3 linked regions of the Homo sapiens genome follow. The gene in region 2 interacts genetically with the main gene of each other region. Each region holds a gene or a part of one and is shown on either strand. Other genes may lie near its edges.

The links.
Region 1: changes in MAP2K1 (region 2) and HDAC2 together harm fitness more than expected from each alone (negative genetic interaction), as found in Homo sapiens cells (one large-scale study listed by BioGRID).
Region 3: changes in MAP2K1 (region 2) and ING5 are lethal when combined (synthetic lethality), as found in Homo sapiens cells (one large-scale study listed by BioGRID).

Annotation. Positions count from the first base shown.
Region 1 is NC_000006.12:113,943,649-113,947,374, reverse strand, and holds part of HDAC2 (histone deacetylase 2), read left to right. Parts: intron 1-1,226; coding exon 1,227-1,367; intron 1,368-1,904; coding exon 1,905-2,013; intron 2,014-2,964; coding exon 2,965-3,095; intron 3,096-3,726. UniProt on the Homo sapiens protein: Histone deacetylase that catalyzes the deacetylation of lysine residues on the N-terminal part of the core histones (H2A, H2B, H3 and H4).
Region 2 is NC_000015.10:66,487,912-66,492,044, forward strand, and holds the end of MAP2K1 (dual specificity mitogen-activated protein kinase kinase 1), read left to right. Parts: intron 1-1,303; coding exon 1,304-1,365; intron 1,366-1,806; coding exon 1,807-1,852; exon of another isoform or gene 1,853-2,590; coding exon 2,591-2,704; 3' UTR 2,705-3,633; downstream 3,634-4,133. UniProt on the Homo sapiens protein: Dual specificity protein kinase which acts as an essential component of the MAP kinase signal transduction pathway.
Region 3 is NC_000002.12:241,715,360-241,719,085, forward strand, and holds part of ING5 (inhibitor of growth protein 5), read left to right. Parts: intron 1-3,726. UniProt on the Homo sapiens protein: Component of the HBO1 complex, which specifically mediates acetylation of histone H3 at 'Lys-14' (H3K14ac) and, to a lower extent, acetylation of histone H4. Component of the MOZ/MORF complex which has a histone H3 acetyltransferase activity.

The sequences.
Region 1 (3,726 bases), on a different chromosome or scaffold from region 2:
AAGTTAGTTATCTCTTTTCCATCTCCTTGCTGCCATCAGCTATGTTCTTCCTCTTGTATTGTCTCCCATTCTTCATTTTTACAAATTTTGGCCTTTAAAAAAATCCCTTTCGAGTCATTTTTGTCAAGTTTTGGGATGAAGGAAAAGTAAACATCTTTGTTTAGCCAGCTATCTTTACTTGGAAGCCTGTAAGTTAACTTTTAGTATGTTTGTTTTTTCTTTAAAAATATCCAAATGGTTTTTATCTGTTAAAAGAAACTTTTCTAGTAGCAATAATAAAAATTGAGTGCTAGAATTATGTAAATCACATGTTGCAACTATTGAAGAATGCTTAATGAAAATTCCCACAGTATACAGTTACATGAAGAGAACAGATAAACTTTGTAAAATTAACTCTGAAATGGAAGGAAATATAGAAAAACGATTTTTGAATAATGTCATTTTTAGGTGGTTAGTTTTTTCATTGTCCCTTTTTAATTTTTTCCCAAATACTCTTCAGTATGCACAAATGTCTTTTGTAATTGAAGGATTTTCTTTTCTTCTTTAAAGATTGAGTTATGTGCCTAACTGGTAATATTCCGAGAAGGGAACTTACTGGAAACTTATAAATGTTTATTGAATTATGACATTTATCCACATAAAATATTTACTTTTATGTTAGGTTTACTATTAATATTAAATTTCTACACGTAGAAGTTGAAGTTTTTGAAAATTAATAGATGTTTTTAACTCTTAAGTTAGGAAAACTACTCAGTACCACTACCTAAAGTTAACTCAGGGTTAAACTATGTTGTTTAGCTTTCCATAATTATTTTACACATGTCCATAGGGAAAGAAAAGTCAATAAAAATTAATTTAGATGATACATAATGTTTTATTGTAACATGATGAATTTCACCATGTAACCCTACATGAACATCTTTCTGTGTTAATAAAATAGGTGTATATTCATATTATAATCTTAATATAGTTGTGTACTTGACTTTTCCATCAGGGACACCTGCTAAAATAGCTAGTTATATCTTAATTTTTTAATATGTATTATTGTATAACGTGTTTGGAAAGGAGTTTTAGACTTGACATTTTTTACATTTTTATTTGTTTTTAAAATATTTAGAAAACCCATTTTGGTTGAGTAACATTTGCACTTATTATCTTTTTAAAATTTATTTTTCGAACTGTTGCAGTATGCAGATTTTGTTGTTACCCAAATCTTCTTGTCTTAGGTCATGCTAAATGTGTAGAAGTTGTAAAAACTTTTAACTTACCATTACTGATGCTTGGAGGAGGTGGCTACACAATCCGTAATGTTGCTCGATGTTGGACATATGAGACTGCAGTTGCCCTTGATTGTGAGATTCCCAATGGTAAGTGTTCTCATTACAATATCTTTATTGTATGAACTGTCAATACAGATGCTCCTCTAATTATGTTGCAATTAGGTCCTGATAAACCCATCATAAGTTGAAAGTATGATAAGTAGAAAATGGATATAATACACTTAACCTACCAAACATGACTTAGCCCAGCCTACTTTAAACGTGCTCAGAACAGTTAGGTTAGGCTTCAGTTGGACAAAATAATCTAATACTGAGCCTGTTTTATAAAAATAAAACGTTGAATATTTCATGTAATGTACTGAATACAAGACATTGAAGTTGGTACAAAAAAGCCAGAAAACTGTAAGTCAAGCCATTGAAAGTCAGAGACTGTCTGTATATAGAAATAGATGGATGAATGATTAGAGTAAGTGCCATTCTTTATAAATAGGAGAACATTCACTTTGTGTTCACTTTTAAACATTTTCTTAGGAAATATTTCACCACCTAAATCTGGATTCTGTGCATGGTTTTTTGTGAAAACTGAGCTTGTAATATGTAACTTTATTTTATTGTTTTCATTAGAGTTGCCATATAATGATTACTTTGAGTATTTTGGACCAGACTTCAAACTGCATATTAGTCCTTCAAACATGACAAACCAGAACACTCCAGAATATATGGAAAAGATAAAGTAAGAAATCATTGAATTGTTTTGATAAACATTTTATCTTGACAAAGATTTAGTATGCTTTAAAGGGCCAAGTATGATGGGTCTTTTTAACTTTATTAGATATTTTGTTTTTTTCTAAAGGATTTGAAACATTAAGTTACTGATTATTCTTTTTTTTTTTTTTTAATTTTTAATTTTTTTGTCAGGATGGGATATTGCTTGGTTGCCCAGGCTGGTCTCGAACTCCTGGCTTCAAGTGATCCTGTCACCTCTGCCTCTCAGAAGTGCTGAGCTTACAGGCATGAGCCACCGTATTCAGCCATTTAATTTCTTCAGTTAATGGAAATAATTTTTTTTATTAGTTGAAATGTATTTTAAAATTGCAAGGTGCACTATAAGTTATTTTCATTGTCTGGAACATTTTGTTAAGGCTTTGTCTCCACAAGCAAAGTAGAGACATTATAGTACATAGCATGGGTTTGAGTCACCTCTGTACCACAAACAAGCTGTATGATGTTTGATAAGTTCACTTGCCTTTGTGCTTATGTTTTCTCATCATTGAAATGGCAGGCTAAAATAATGCCTCCTTGGCCAGTCAAGGTGGCTTATGCTTGTAATCCTAATGCTTTGGAAGTCCGAGGTGGGAGGATAGCTTTAGACCAGTAGTTTGTGACCAGCCTGGGCCATATAGTGAGACCTTGTCTGCAAAAAATTTAAAAATTAGCCGGGCATGGTGGCATACACTTGTAGTCCTAACGCGCAGAGGCTGAGGCAGGAGGATTGCCAGGAGTTTGAGGCTGCAGTGAGCTATGATCTTGCCACTGCACTCTAGTCTGGGCAACAAAGAGAGACCTTTTAATATATAGGTTTAGCTAGACCAAAGATGAAATTTTTTGCTAAATATTTTCTCTTGCATGTAAGAACTGCAAAGAAATTTAATTTTGTCTAATAAACTTTGCATGTGTAATTTAGACAGCGTTTGTTTGAAAATTTGCGCATGTTACCTCATGCACCTGGTGTCCAGATGCAAGCTATTCCAGAAGATGCTGTTCATGAAGACAGTGGAGATGAAGATGGAGAAGATCCAGACAAGAGAATTTCTAGTAAGATAATGCCTTTATTTTTCCAATTTGTCAAAATGATAATTGAAATGGAAGGTTTTAGTGGCCTAAGAACTTCACTATAAAGTCATGTTCACGAGCACACTGTTAATATTGTCATTTTTGCCACTTTCAGAGATTTAGCTTCCTGATGTCTCAGAACCTGATTTGGGTGTCAGCAGTTTCAGTTTGTATGGCTGGATATACATATATGATTGAAAGTTTTCAAAAATTAGCAACTTTAGTATATTTGGAAATTAATAAGACATCTCATTTATCTAAAGTAGGGTGAACTAAATAACTAAACATCTGTTTGATTTTACAACTTCTCATTACACTTAATGTGATGGTTAGATTGTAGCATAACAGTATGTGTAATGGTATAGACTGTCTAACATATTTGGTATTGGTACTTTTTTTTTGGTCTACTTCACCTCTCAGCTCTGAAATAAAATGCTACTTTTTAAGTAATGACATTATTCCCATCCCCTATTAGAAAAACACACTTTTTTCCTTTAGAGTTTCAGCATTTTTAAAGAAAAAGAGATTCCCCCAATTTTTATTATGTGTTTTTGAGCCATTTCTTCATACATGAAAGCAAAGTTTTCAATATTAAATAAACCATTCATTCCAT
Region 2 (4,133 bases):
CTTCCAAATTTTCACATTAATTTCCCATGCAATTCTCCCAAGCATTGCTGAGGTAGGCCAAATTGGTTCCTCTTCAAACAGGTGAGGAAATTGAGCCTCCGAGATGAAAAGTAGCCCAGGTCCTTCCCACCCAGTGCTCTTTCTTCCTTGCCACCTCCCACCTCCCATTCTTACCTCCTAGGAGGCTTGGCTGCATGGCAGTTGTTCTACTGCAGCCTCTGCTGGCACACAGCCCCTCTGCTGCCTAGCTCTTTCCTGTTCAGAAGGAATGGATGCTGCCTCTGGAGGCCAAGCTGCTGGTCTCCTCTCTTCCTTGAATGGTCCCTTGATTCCCTCAGCAGTGGGGACAGTCTGCAGAATGGGGCTTGCTCTGGGTCACTGTTCTAAGAGCTGAGTTCTAGTCCTCACCTAAGATCAGACTGACATGGCCCTCAAAGGAAGAGCACTAGGTTGGGCTTTGTGGTGGGGATCAGTGTCTCATTTTTAGTCCCAAATTAAAAACGAGATTTTGGGCTGTACATCAGAGCAGTGACATCATGGACATTATGTCTGTGGGTCAGCATGGGTACACACAGCTCCCAGCCCAGGTACATAAGTGGGCCCACATTTCCTGGACTGCATGGAACGCCATGAGCCCAGTGCTCCAGAGCCTTGTACTGTATAGTGCTGCATGATCACCATGGGAAAATCTGAAAACAGCCTCATTTCTGGAATGTACAGGTAACATTCTTCCAGATCCAGCCCTCTGTCAGTTAATGTTTTATTAACTTTTCACTGCTTCTCTAGGGCTCAGAAAAGGGATTTTTAAAAACCGGTTTGCTTCTGCAGGTGCTGTCAGACCTGGGCTATGCCTGGTGGTTTGCACGTGCCCCTAGCTGTTGCTGCCAGTAAATTGCTGGTTACGTTCCCATGCCGCACTCCAAGATTTACCATTGTAGAGTGTCAGAGCTTGAAAGGGTCCCTGAGATCATTAGGCCCAACCTCTTCATGTCATAGAAGAGTAAACTGAGGCTCATAGAGGAATAGTGATTAGTTCAAAATCACCCGACAAGTGAGTGGACTTGACTTGGTCCCAATTCTAAATGTGCTATTTGAGATCAGTGGTTCCAACATGGTTACCCAACAGGCAGCACTGGCCTTCTACCTGTGCCTTTCCTTGACTGGATGAGAGTAGTACTGCCTTTGGACTGCAGAGAAGACTTTAAAAAAAAGTAGCACTGGCTGGTGGGAGGGGTGGGATGGGGAGAGGAGATGGCTGGAGCAAGGAGCCAGGCATTTTTCTTATCTCAACATGTGTTTGCAGCCTCCTCCAAAACTGCCCAGTGGAGTGTTCAGTCTGGAATTTCAAGATTTTGTGAATAAATGGTAAGTTGGCTCCTTGTTCTCTGGAAGCGTATACTCTGGATTTGTCAGGCTCCCCACCCCATTTCTGGAAGCACCAGCATTGCTTCTGCAGGCAGAGTTTTGCCCTTTACCCTCCCGTCTGATGATTCTTGGCTGCTGCCATAAGCCCTTTTTTAGAGTGCCAAGACTTATGTGGCATGTCTAACTACATCATGGATGTAGTAGCTGCTCCTTTTGGTACTTGCTCTCCAGGGATTGGCACGTTGCTTTTTGACCTTAGTTTAACTCAGCAAGAATGTATTAACTTACTGTGGGCATGATACTGTGCTTAGAACAGGAGGATGAATCAAGCCCAGGCAATCCTCGGCCTCTAGTGTGCAGAGAAGACAGGCATGCAAACATGTTATTTGAGCTAGAACCAGTGCCAGGCAACAGCTCTTACCTTGTCTTTCTTCCTTTAAGCTTAATAAAAAACCCCGCAGAGAGAGCAGATTTGAAGCAACTCATGGTGAGTCTATTTATTCCGGATTCTTACAGTACCTGTTTATTCATTTGTTCTTCTCTGTCAGTCATCTGTGCAGTACTTCCAGAGCCCATTCATTCCCTGCCCACTGTGGTCCAGCTGAGCCTGGGGCTGCAGAATACCAAACACCAGTCTCCTTTGCTCTCCCATCAGTTTAAGGGAAAGCTGGGGTGACCCCCGCAGCCTGAGTAAGCATATGCCAGAGGAAATGCCTGAGGGGGCCATGGGAAAGAAAAGGCCAGCCCACCCCCTTCATGGGGATGCGGCCTTTCCCTAATACTGACTGCCTCATCTTACATTCAGCCTCCTTCCAGAGTCACTCTCCGCCTGCTGTCTCGTTTGGTGGCAGTGGAAATAGCTAAGTAATACTGTAAATATCTGGACAGCCATAGACGGTGTATATAGTATATAATATGCACTAAGTCCATCATTTTCTTTGTCCCTTCTAACAAGCCTGTGAGGCATTTAAGGCAGAGTTACTGTCTCCATACTGCACGAGTAGGCTCCAAGAGGTGACTTGCCCAAGGCCTCACAGCTGCTGTGACTGGTGGAGCAGGTCTTTGGGCCTGCAGCTGGCCCCACTGTTGCTCAGGGGCAGGTGCCAGGTGCTCTTTCCAAGTGCAGCACAAGCTCTAGACCTGAAACTCTTGGATTTTCCTTCCTGGTGGGTTTTGTTTTTTTGTTTCTTTTTAACACCACGTCCTCTCGTTTCCTTACATGCAGGTTCATGCTTTTATCAAGAGATCTGATGCTGAGGAAGTGGATTTTGCAGGTTGGCTCTGCTCCACCATCGGCCTTAACCAGCCCAGCACACCAACCCATGCTGCTGGCGTCTAAGTGTTTGGGAAGCAACAAAGAGCGAGTCCCCTGCCCGGTGGTTTGCCATGTCGCTTTTGGGCCTCCTTCCCATGCCTGTCTCTGTTCAGATGTGCATTTCACCTGTGACAAAGGATGAAGAACACAGCATGTGCCAAGATTCTACTCTTGTCATTTTTAATATTACTGTCTTTATTCTTATTACTATTATTGTTCCCCTAAGTGGATTGGCTTTGTGCTTGGGGCTATTTGTGTGTATGCTGATGATCAAAACCTGTGCCAGGCTGAATTACAGTGAAATTTTGGTGAATGTGGGTAGTCATTCTTACAATTGCACTGCTGTTCCTGCTCCATGACTGGCTGTCTGCCTGTATTTTCGGGATTCTTTGACATTTGGTGGTACTTTATTCTTGCTGGGCATACTTTCTCTCTAGGAGGGAGCCTTGTGAGATCCTTCACAGGCAGTGCATGTGAAGCATGCTTTGCTGCTATGAAAATGAGCATCAGAGAGTGTACATCATGTTATTTTATTATTATTATTTGCTTTTCATGTAGAACTCAGCAGTTGACATCCAAATCTAGCCAGAGCCCTTCACTGCCATGATAGCTGGGGCTTCACCAGTCTGTCTACTGTGGTGATCTGTAGACTTCTGGTTGTATTTCTATATTTATTTTCAGTATACTGTGTGGGATACTTAGTGGTATGTCTCTTTAAGTTTTGATTAATGTTTCTTAAATGGAATTATTTTGAATGTCACAAATTGATCAAGATATTAAAATGTCGGATTTATCTTTCCCCATATCCAAGTACCAATGCTGTTGTAAACAACGTGTATAGTGCCTAAAATTGTATGAAAATCCTTTTAACCATTTTAACCTAGATGTTTAACAAATCTAATCTCTTATTCTAATAAATATACTATGAAATAAAAAAAAAAGGATGAAAGCTACTTTTGCTTTTGTGGTAAGCTTTTCAGTTTCTTTAGTACACAAGAAATACTGGTTTAGCCAAGCAACACTGGTGAGGGGGAAAGGTGAAGATGAGGAGGAGGCTGGAAGGCAGAAACAGGACACCGAGTTCAGTGCTTTGGACTAATGGGGCTTCCTGTAATTTCAATCTCTGGACTCAGTCCAGCTCTTCTCACCCAACACCCTTATCTGTGACTCTTCCAACCACCTTCCTTGTGGGACCTGTGAATAGATCCTGTATATTCCTTTGATCTCTTTTATACAAGGGAAAAGCAGCTGATGGGGGACTGGGAGCAAATCTGAGAAAAATGACAAAACATTTCTTATCTCACAGAACATTTCTCATTTTCCATATACCAATAGTTGAGCTGAGGGCCTGCCTGCACTTTTAGGCTGTCATGCTCATAGGAGGGCCTTGCTGGTGGCCAGCTTGCCTACCTGGTGTGGGAGCTTTCTGCACAACATAGGACAGTCTGTCTCC
Region 3 (3,726 bases), on a different chromosome or scaffold from region 2:
AATTTTTTATATTTTTGGTAGAGATGGAGTTTCACCATGTTGCCCAGGGTGGTCTTAAACTCCTGAGCTCAAGTGATCCACCCACGTTGGCCTCCCAAAGTGCTGGAATAGAATTTTTTTTTTTTTTTTTTTTTTTTTGGTGAGACGGAGCCTCACTCTGTTGCCCAGGCTTGAGTGCAGTGGTGTGATCTTGGCTCACTGCAACCTCCACCTCCCAGGTTCAAGCAATTCTCTTGCCTCAGCCTCCTGGGTAGCTGGGATTACAGGCACGTATCACCATGCCTGGCTAATTTTTTTTTGTATTTTTAGTAGAGACAGGGTTTCACCATGTTGGCCAGGCTGGTCTTGAACTCCTGACCTCAGGTGATCTGCCTGCCTTGGCCTCCCAACATACTGGGATTACAGGCGTGAGCCACCGCACCTGACCTAGAATTTTTTTTTTCATGCTACTTCTTTGCCCTATAACTTATGTAGAAGTATGTGTCTCAATTTCCAAATAATTTGGGATTTTTCAGATACCTTTCTAATTTTAATTTTTTAGTTGACTTCTGTTGTGGTCAAAGAACATTACATAATTGAAATCCTTTGAAAGCCAGCTAATTTTTGTATTTTTAACAGAGACAGGATTTCACCATGCTGGGCAGGCTGGTCTCGAACTCCTGACCTCAAATGATCTGCCCACCTTGGCCTCCCCTCCCTGTAAAGTGCTGGGATTACAGGCATGAGCCACCGCACCCGGCCTTCATTGCAATATTTGGTCTGTTCATATTTAACATAATTAATGATATGGTGGGATTTAGGTTCACCATCTTGCTATTAGTTTTCTGTTTGTTCCTTCTGCTCCTTTGCTGTCTTCTTTTGGACTAATCAGGTATTTTTTAGTATTCCGTTTTTTTCCCCACTCTTGTCTTATTAGCCATGCTTTTTTTTTTTTTTTTTTTTTTGAGACGGAGTCTTGCACTGTTGCCCAGGCTGGAGTACAATTTGCAATGGCATGATCTTGGCTCACTACAACCTCTGCTTCCCAGGTTCAAGCGATTCTCATGCCTCAGCCTCCGCAGTAGCTGGGATTATAGGTGTGCGCCACCACACCCGGCTAATGTTTTTGTATTTTTAGTAGAGACAGGTTTTCACCATTTTGGCCAGGCTGGTCTCGAACCCCTGACCCCAAGTGATCCACCCACCTCGGCCTCCCAAAGTGCTAGGATTACAGGCGTGAGCCACTGCCCCGGCCCCTGTATTTTAAGGATTGTTCTAGTGTGTGCACTCAGTTTCCTTAAGTTATCACAGTGAGCTTCAGATATTACACTATTTGATGTTTAACGTGTGGCTCCACACAAGTGTTCTTCCATTTCCTGCCTTTGTGCTGTTGTCCTTCACTTTGCCTGTGATCTGAGCTTCCCAGCACGTTATTACCTTAGATGCAAACCACTGATGACGTGAAACACGCCTTAAAATATATGTGGAATGTAAAGATGTTGAACTCACAGAAGTAGAGAGTAGAATGGTGGTCAGGCGCTGGGGTGGTCAGGGGAGACGTTGGATACAGAATTTCATTTAGATAGGAGGAATAAGTTCAAAAGATCCGTTTTACAACATGGTGACTACAGTTAATAACAATATAGTCTCAAAAAAATGTGTAGATTTTAAGTGTTCTCACCACAAAAGTCACCCCATATATAGTTACCTCATATAGTTGCCATTTCTGGTAACCTTCATTTTTTTTTTTTTTTGAGACAGAGTCTTGCTCTGTGTCCCAGGCTGGAGTGCAGTGGTGCGATCTCAGCTCACGGCAACCTCTGCCTCCCAGGTTCAAGTGATTCTTGTGCCTCAGCCTCCTGAGTAGCTGAGATTACACCCACCTACTCACCTGGTTAATTTTTGTATTTTTAGTAGAGATGGGGTTTTGCCATGTTGGCCAGGCTGGTCTCGAACTCCTGGCCTCCAGTGACCCTCTCGCCTCAGCCTCCCAAAGTGGCAGGATGACAGGCATGAGCCACCGCGCCTGGCCCAACTATTATTTCTTAATATTTATTTTCTTTCTTTAAAAATTTTTTTTCCATACATATTCTGCTTACGTATATTTCTTTATGTGGATGCAAATTTCTGTCTTGTCATTTCTCCTCTACTGAAGAACTTTAACATTTTTTGCAGTACATGTATGCTGATGGTGATGAATTCTCTGTTTTTGTTTCTCTGAAAATGCTTTTATTTCACTGCGTATAGAATTTTAGGTTGACCTTTTTTCTTTTATCGCTAAAGATGTTCTCTCATTTTCTTCTGTCTTTCATTGATTCTGATGATAAATTACTGATAATAATTATTTTTGGTGGTTTCTTTTTTTTTTTTTGCTTTTAAGATTTCTCATTGTCACTGGCTCTTAACAGTTTGGTTATGATGTGTATTGGTGTGATTTTTTTGTGTATATTTTGCGTGGAACTTGTTGAGCATCTTTGAACTGTTGGTTTATACTTTGCATCGAATTTGGAAAATTTTCAGACAGTTCTTCCAGTATTTTTGTGCTCTCCTTTCTCCTCTTCCTGCTGTCCAGCTCCCTGTGCGTTCCTTAGCTTAGATTTTCTCACAGCTCACCGAGGCTCTGCTTACTTTCTGCAAGCTTTTTTCTTTCTGTACTTCAGTTTGATTTGTTTCTATTACTTTATTTATTTATGAGACAGGTTCAGGCTCTGTGGCCCAGGCTGGAGTGCGGTGGCGCAATCTCCGCTCACCGCAGCCTCTGCCTCCCGGGTTCAAGCCATTCTCCCGCCTCAGCCTTCCAAGTAGCTGGGATTACAGGTGAGCGTCACCACACCCGGCTAAGTTTTGTATTTTTAGTAGAGTCGGGGTTTCAGCCTGTTGGCCAGGCTGGTTTCAAACTCCTGGCCTCAAGTGATCCGCCCAGCTCAGCCTCTCACCTTCCCTTTCCTTCTTTCTTTCCTTCCTTCCTTTCTTCTTTCCTCCCTTCCTCCCTCCCTCCCTCACTTCCTTCCTCCTTCCCTCCCTCCCTCCCTTCCTCCCTCCCTCCCTTCCTTCCTTCCTTCCTTCTTTTCTCTTTCTGTCTTTTTTTTTTTTTTTTTGAGACGGTCTTGCTTGGTCACCCAGGCTGGAGTGCACTGGTACAATCTTGGCTCACTGCAAGCTCCGCCTCCCAAGTTCAAGCGATTCTCTGCCTCAGCCTCCCAAGTAGCTGGAATTACAGGCACGTGCCACCATGACTGGCTAATTTTGTATTTTTAGTATAGACAGGGTTTCACCGTGTTATGCAGGCTGGTCTCGAACTCCTGGCCTCAGGTGGATCTGCCTGTTTTTGGCCTCCCGATGTGCTGGGATTACAGGCGTGAGCTGCTGTGCCCGGCCCTAAGTTAGTTTTAATCTCCTTTAATACATTTTTCATTTAAGAGATTGTAGGGCTGGGTGCTTTGGCTCATGCCTGTAATCTCAGCACTTTGGAAGGCTGAGGTGGGAGGGTCACTTGAGTAGCCGGGATCACAGGCATGTGCCACCATTCCTTGGTAACCAGCTTTTAAAAAAACATAATCAGTCCTATTTCCCTGCTGAGGGTACATGTCTCATGATTTATTAGCTGTCTGACTTTAGATATAAAGGAAGCGTGGAGAGGGAAATTTCTGTTCTCCCCAGGAGGTGTTCGTTCTGTTTTAGTCCAGGCCAATAGGGCTGGGGGCCTGGGGCGGGGCAGGGTCTCAGCTTCAGCTCCACCGAGGCCCC